Linked DNA regions of Homo sapiens. The protein of the gene in region 2 interacts with the protein of the main gene of each other region in a pairwise test. Each region holds a gene or a part of one and is shown on either strand. Other genes may lie near its edges.

The links.
Region 1: the proteins of CREB5 (region 2) and TSGA10 interact in binary tests that used the Homo sapiens proteins (3 or more experiments, as listed by UniProt).

What each region holds. Positions count from the first base shown.
Region 1 is NC_000002.12:99,102,801-99,106,455, forward strand, and holds part of TSGA10 (testis-specific gene 10 protein), read right to left. Parts: intron 2,898-3,655; coding exon 2,727-2,897; intron 2,637-2,726; coding exon 2,559-2,636; intron 1,319-2,558; coding exon 1,167-1,318; intron 284-1,166; exon of another isoform or gene 1-283. UniProt on the Homo sapiens protein: Plays a role in spermatogenesis. When overexpressed, prevents nuclear localization of HIF1A.
Region 2 is NC_000007.14:28,814,485-28,818,139, forward strand, and holds part of CREB5 (cyclic AMP-responsive element-binding protein 5), read left to right. Parts: intron 1-3,586; coding exon 3,587-3,655. UniProt on the Homo sapiens protein: Binds to the cAMP response element and activates transcription.

The sequences.
Region 1 (3,655 bases), on a different chromosome or scaffold from region 2:
TCTCATACCCAGAACTGTAAATATAAACCTAAATATTTGGCCAATAGTTTTCAGACTTAAAGCATCATAGTCCTTTTATATTTGTCTTTGTATTTTATAAGATACTCTGTAATGTCATGTTTGTACTTACAGTTTTAGAATTTAATTTCCTGTACAACTTTTTGTAAAATGTTCTGCTCCTATTTTAAATGTTTTGAAACATGCTAAATATTCTTTCCTAATTATTTTATCGCTTATACTGCCTTTTTTATAGCTTCAATTAAATAATTGGTTTTATGACTAAAAAAAAAAAAAAAAAAAATTGTTAAGAAAGACCAGGCCCGGTGGCTCATGCCTGTAATCTCAGCATTAATAGGAGTGTGAACTACTATTTTTCTTTCTTAAGTTCCGGGGTACATGTGCAGAACATGCAGGTGTGTTACACAGGTAAACATGTGCCACGGTGGTTTGCCGCACAGATCAACCCGTCACCTAGATATTAAGCTATTACTATTTTTCAATGTTCATAGATGCAATGAAATTCAACCTTACTGAATCTGTAGAACCTCTGTTTCTCACAGCAACAGATACTAAAAGTAAAACCACTCATGTAGAGGTCTTCAAAAACTCATTCTCCCAAGCTTATTGCTGTAGGCTGCTTCAATTGATACATCTTCGGCAACCATGCCAGTACACAGGAAAGGCTAAGTATAGTACTTGCATTCAATTAATAGATGCTCCATCACGTGCTCCTATTTCTCTGTTACGGCTTTTCATTATATTCTAAATCACCCTTTTTCTAAGCAACTGCCAAACCTGTGCTTTGTGTTTTCTTATACTGTTCATATCCCCAAACAGAATTTAAAGTTATAAAGGTAAACAATCAAAGTCAAATATATTCTGTACCCAGAAGAGCTTTGTAAAAGCTATTTCAGTTAAAAGTTGAAGTTTTTTACAAATGTAAAGTAAGATTACTAGAAGTGTGATTCCTAGTTAAGTGTGGCATTACCAGCCTGTGATTGAGCTCAGGAAAATTGTTCACTGTGTGCCAAGGGTTCCTACAACTGCTTTTCAATAATCCTCTCAGAAACTGAACTCAACAAATAATTTTCATTATAAAATACACTATAAAAAGCAGAGCTATAGTTATAGTAAACTGTTGGTTGTTTAAAGGTGATTTAGTTTACCTCAAAGAATTATTCTCTGCTTTTTGTCTGCCAAGTTCACTTTCGGTATCCATTGCCTTTCTTGCTAGTGATTTCATTTCTTTTTCCACAGTGCTTATGGTTTCCTTCATCAAAGTCATATTTGACATTTGCTCCATACGTTCATCATCAAGCTATACAAGTAGAATGACAAGGTTACTGCCATCACTAAAAACACCTTAGTAATCTTCCTGAAGGGCATACTCCCTCTGTACAAACTGGTTTATGGCAAGACTGACAGGATGAGATTATCAGGTTAGACCTGACTGCTGTAGAAGGTTTTACAGATAAGGTGTTGTGAAGTAGGACCAAGGAAAAGCCACTGCAAAGTAAAGCTTATCACAGTATATCAGTCTATATTTTTCAATCTGGTTCAATTTGACTATAGTATAAATATGCTGTTTGCAAAAGAATTTATTTGTTGCCCAACATTAATAAATTACACATATAATGTAGAATTATGAAAACAAAAATTATTTTCTCCTGTCTAGTAATTTTTTTTTTTTTTGAGACAGAGTATCGCTCCATCGCCCAGGTTGAAGTGCAGTGGCGCGATCTCGGCTCACTGCAATCTCCACCTCCCGGGTGCAAGCAATTCTCCTGTCTCAGCCTCCCAAGTAGCTGGGACTACAGGCGCATGCCACCACACCTGGCAAATTTTCATATTTTTAGTAGAGACAGGGTTTCACCATATTGGTCAGGCTGGTCTCAAACTCCTGACCTTAGGTGATCCACCCGCCTTGGCCTCCCAAAGTGCTGGGATTACAGGCATGAGCCACCGTGCCCAGCCCCTATCTCATATTTTTAACTCATTACAATAAAACAGTACAGATGAACTTATAAATATATTCAATTATATTTGGTAATAGAAAGTTAAATTCTCTTATGTTTATATAGTGACAATATCATCAATATATATTCGTAGCAATATCAAATCTGATTAGGAAAAAGGTGATGTTTCACATTTAAATTTAGTTTAAATAAACTTTGCTTATAATTTTTATTTCATCATAATTTTCTCTCCTTATCCACTCTTTAGGTAGAATAAACCATTTTCTTTACATCTGGCAATATTATCTTTAACAAAATATGGAGATGAGAAAGTAGATAAGATCCCTGAAAATGAATGCCTAATGATTTTTTTAAAGTACATACTTTGCAACCTAACACCAAAAAACATTTACTCACATTTTTAGAAGGAAATAAACAAATGAAAAAGTGACAATTTACACTATAAAATACCTTAAGTATTTTAGGACTATAAACACTATCTTAGAAAAATAAAATAACTTCTCTGAATACAGAAAAAGGAGAAAGGGGAAAGCCATTGAGTGTTTATAGCCAAAAGAGACTTTTCTTTTTTTTTTTTTTTACATTATGAACTGTACACTCCAGCTCCTCTATCCTTTGTTCCAGGTGAGCCTTCTCATTAAATGCTGTCTCTTGAGCAATCTGATTAAAAAGCAAAAACAAAATAAAGTGATTTCAATATCCCTGAATTTGTGTTTCACATATATTCACGTAAATAAAATCCTTTCCAACCTTTAGCCTCTCCCTTAGACTATCTCGTTCTGTGGTCATTCTTCGTAAATCAGTAAAGGCTACATCTCTTTCAGTCTCCACTCGCCGGAGAATAGCATGTGCCGTTGTTGATTTAGGACTCTTACAGCTTTTCATCATTTCTCGTCGAAGTCGGGTAATTTCTTCCTGTGCCTATTATTTAAATCATAGACTTTGGTTGAACAAGCTTTAGAACACATAAACATAAAAAATTTTATGTATCTAGCCAGTTAAAATGCAAACCTACATCAACATGCATGCAGCAGGGTAATGGTATCGCTTTTATTTTAAAATAAGCTTATACAAATAAATGAAAATGAATATATTTAAATAGAAGTTCATGTTACAACATCTTTGCCAAAAGTCTAAAATAAAATTAATTTGGAGGAAGTCATTGCAACAGAGAATGTTTTGCTAAGAAATATATTTGGTATACTCCATTTATTCATTTTGTAGTGTAAATTTAAATTCAGCACAATTTAGACAGACTACCGGTTTAATGAATATTATCATAGTGTTTCAGTCTTCCTAAATATAAATGCATATGCCATTCCTATGTCTTGGCTACTTCTGCCCTGACAGAAAGGCCCACCAATCCTTACTGATAACCCAACAGAGTCTCTGCACGTCTGTTCAACCATCCTTGGGTCCCAAATCTATTCCAAACCTGCAGATTATTTAATATCACAGTTCGCTGCACAGGTCTCTTTTCCTCTTGATTTTGATCACTGTCTATTCAGATAGTCTCCAAGCCCCAAAGGAAAATATATAACTTCCCAATTTCCACAGCTAAGCCTTCACCAGAACCCCAAACCTCATCTCCTAAAGTGTCTTCTAAGATCTCCCTGACTCAATTATAATTATTTCTTCTCATCTTGAATAGTACCCTCTCCACTGGCACTTTCTCCCCT
Region 2 (3,655 bases):
AAGCATAAGAGGTGCTAGAACTGGCTCCCTTATGAAAGATAAGACCTGAATTATAAGCATATTTGAGCATATTGAAAGTAGCTAAGTAATGAATAAAAGTCAAGATGGACTCTTTCATTGGATAATTGGGTAATTTGCTTTCTCAATAGAAGGTGACACAGAATTGCTTGTAGAATAAAAAAAAATTCTTTCTGGAAGGAACTTTCTGGAAGTAGTTCAACCATCGTGTTTTATACTTGGTTGGCATGGCAGCTTGGGAACTCAAACCCTATTATTCTCAACTCTCAAGTGAGAGTTCCTTTTCCTACTGGATGCTGCCCCATGAATTTCTATGGCTTATGTGGTTATTAGGCCTTTATTTAGTCCTTGCAGCATCATAGTTATATGTATATGGATAAACAAGAAGCTGATTGCCCTTCTCTACTGAGGACATTAATTGGTGTTCATTTTCCCACAATAACATGGCTAAATAAGTATTAACATGTTACATTAAGAAATATGTCCTGCCAGGCACAGTGGCTCATGCCTGTAATCCCAGCACTTGGGGAGGCTGAGGCTGGAGAATCACTTGAGGCCAGGAGTTCAAGAGCAGCCTGGGCAAAATAGCTACACCCCATCTTTGCAAAACATTTTTTAAAATTAGGTGGGCATTGTGGCACATGTCTCTAGTCCCTGCTACTCAGAAGGCTGAGGTGGGAGGATTGCTTGAGCCCAGGAGGTAGAGGCTGCAGTGAACTATGATGGTGCCACTGTAGTCCAGCCTGGACGACATAGCAAGACCCTGTCTCTATAACAATAAAAAAGAAAAAAAGAATATGTTCATATTCACATATATCTTTAAATGATGGTCAGTTGTCTCAATATTCTCAGGGTTCTGCATTTTTACAGATCCTCACAACACTCAGGCCTTTGGTCTCTGTACTTACAACATATTGCTTTATTAATAAAGTGTTTTGCTGTTCATAGACTAAATGCCACCAAAGTCATATACTTTGTATGGGGTTTTGGTGATAGGCCAGGGCACCACATGTGCTGACTAGTGCTCTTTTTATAGTAAAACAGACTTATGAAAGCAAAAATTTATTGTGAAACTGTTTGGGGCATGCCAAATATCATAGGCAGTTAGCTCTTTGCTAACTGTAGAAACCCAGAGAATAGAATTGAGTGTTTTCTTAGGGAAGGGGCAATGAACACTTTGTGCCTGGGAGATCGAATGCTGCCAAGAAAGGGTTTCATTGCCCAGGACATAGTGGGGGAAGAAATGGAGACTAAATTCAACCTCTCCAAGATGGCCACAGGCAGGGGTGTTTTTTCTTCCAAAAGTATAAGAAAGCAAGAGAACCCAGTTTTGTTTTTAATACTTTTCTTGTTTGTTTTCTAGGTAGAAAAGTGTGGATTCACTAGAAATTAGAACTTGATTCCATTTTCTAAGATCCATTGTCTACATTATCTGCAGCTGAGAGCTTCTACTCAGGGGGCAAGGTGTCTAGCAGTTTCGATTTCAGAAAAGTGTTATTTCTGTAGTCTAAATGCAAATAATATGACATTTCCTTCTGAAGCAAATATATACGCACACACACACACACACACACACACACACATAAACACATCTCTGTTTCCTTTCTTGGTTTTTGTTTGGTTGTTTTTTTTTAACCAGAGATTGCCTTCATTTGATGGTCTAGAAGTGACTTTCTTTTATATGTGCTATTTTGAGCAGAAGGAGAACTGAGAAAAAGAAGGAAGGCCATCTGAATTTAGATAGGTGTAAAGTCAAAGAGGAAGAAGTTAGTGTTTAAGGCTAAAATAAATTGTCCTGTAAGTTATCCCACTGACCTTGGAATTGACAGGGTCACTTTTGGTTTCCACAGAGCCCCTTATCAATCACATTCATTTGGAGTTGGGAGGTACAATTTGCCTTCTTGTATGTTCTGAGATGTAAGAGCAATTTTCTTGTTTGATTAAGTGATTTATTCATCATTAAGGCTAATTTCCCAAATAGTCATTTTTATTTTGTAAAAATAAAGTTTGGAAGAGAAAGGGAATGAGATGAGATTTGTAGATGAGATTTTTATTATTTTGTCATTGTTTTATTTTATTATTTTTGTTATTAATGTTACTCAATATGTGGTTGCTTATAATTTATTTCACCAAGAAATTTAGAAATGGGAGATATTCCTTAAAACAGATTTCAATTTTTTTTAGCGCAACTTCTAGAATCCCAAACATACTTTCCTAGGTGATAAATACATGGCTGAAAAGCCAAGTTCATATTGAAAGTGTAGGTACAACTTAATGACAGCAATGTTAATCGTCCTTTTCGGTGTGCATGCATTTTTTAAGTCTCCTACATGTGAGGTATAATGCCTGGCAGCCACAAATAAACCTTGACCAAAGAGAGGATATTATTGATCACAATTTTTAAGTGGCTTATTCAAGATAGTGCTACATTTACGTTCACTTTTATCAAGTGGAAGCATCTCGGAGCTACCATCTATTTTATGTTTATATTTGTAGACAATGGGTGCCAAGTTCATTATTCTACAAAGCTATGAGCATGCCTTTGTGAATTAATATTAACAGATAAAGTAGAGATCCGAGGCACTTACATGAGTAAATAAGAAGAAAACCCCACACCATCCACAATATCCTGATATTGAGGGGGGAAAGAGTATTTTATAGACCGAAATTGACCAAATAATCAATGAACTCAATCAAATTAATTCAATCATGGCCCAAAACTTCATTGCCTCCTTGCCACCCTGAGCTGACATCATCCACCTGCAGCTGACCAACATGTGTACTGTATGCTTCCATACCTCCTGCTCAGTGGGCATCAGGCAGGTAGATGTGCTCTGCTCAACAGTATCCCATGAACAGTAATTGAGTAGGAGATGGTGGGGAGAGCAGGGATTCATGACTGAAGGTCAATTTATTTTCAGATATTCTTTTTAGATTGAGCAACACAGACTTCTTTTGGAAAATCTGATGGTAGATGAGTCAGCTTATTCTGATTGCATTTCAGGTGGAAGCCACAAATCCTACCACATAATTCTGCCCAATGTGCGCCTCATATTCACATTCTCAATTGGATGTAAACCTGAGCTTGTGAAGGTTACAATAGTTAAATGTATTAAGTCCTTATTATGTGCTGGGTATTGTTCTGTTTCCCATCTATTACTGTATTTAATCCTCATAGTAACACAAATAATGTACTCTTCTTATCCCCATCTTATAACGAGGTTGCTGGAGCTCAGCTGGGTTATGTAATCTACCTAGGGTCACACAGTCAGTGTGGAGTAAGGATTCTCACCTGGCTTCGGTTCCCATCACCTAAGGGTGTGGTCTAGCCTTTTAATAAGGTTCAGCTCTTGAGTTAAAACCTAAGCTCTGCAGAAAGCCCCTGGGAAATGTGAGGGCCAAATTAAAGGTAAGCTACAAACTTTCAGGTGAACCACATTAAATAATATTCTTAATGTCATTTAGACATAATGGAAGAGTTTGCCAGTTTTGTTGTTGAAAGTGCACAGGGCTGTGGGTTTGTATCCTCTGGTCTTCTCAACATGGTTTTAATACATATCTCTTTTAGAATGAAGTGTCTATGTTGAAAAATGAGGTGGCCCAGCTGAAACAGTTGTTGTTAACACATAAAGACTGC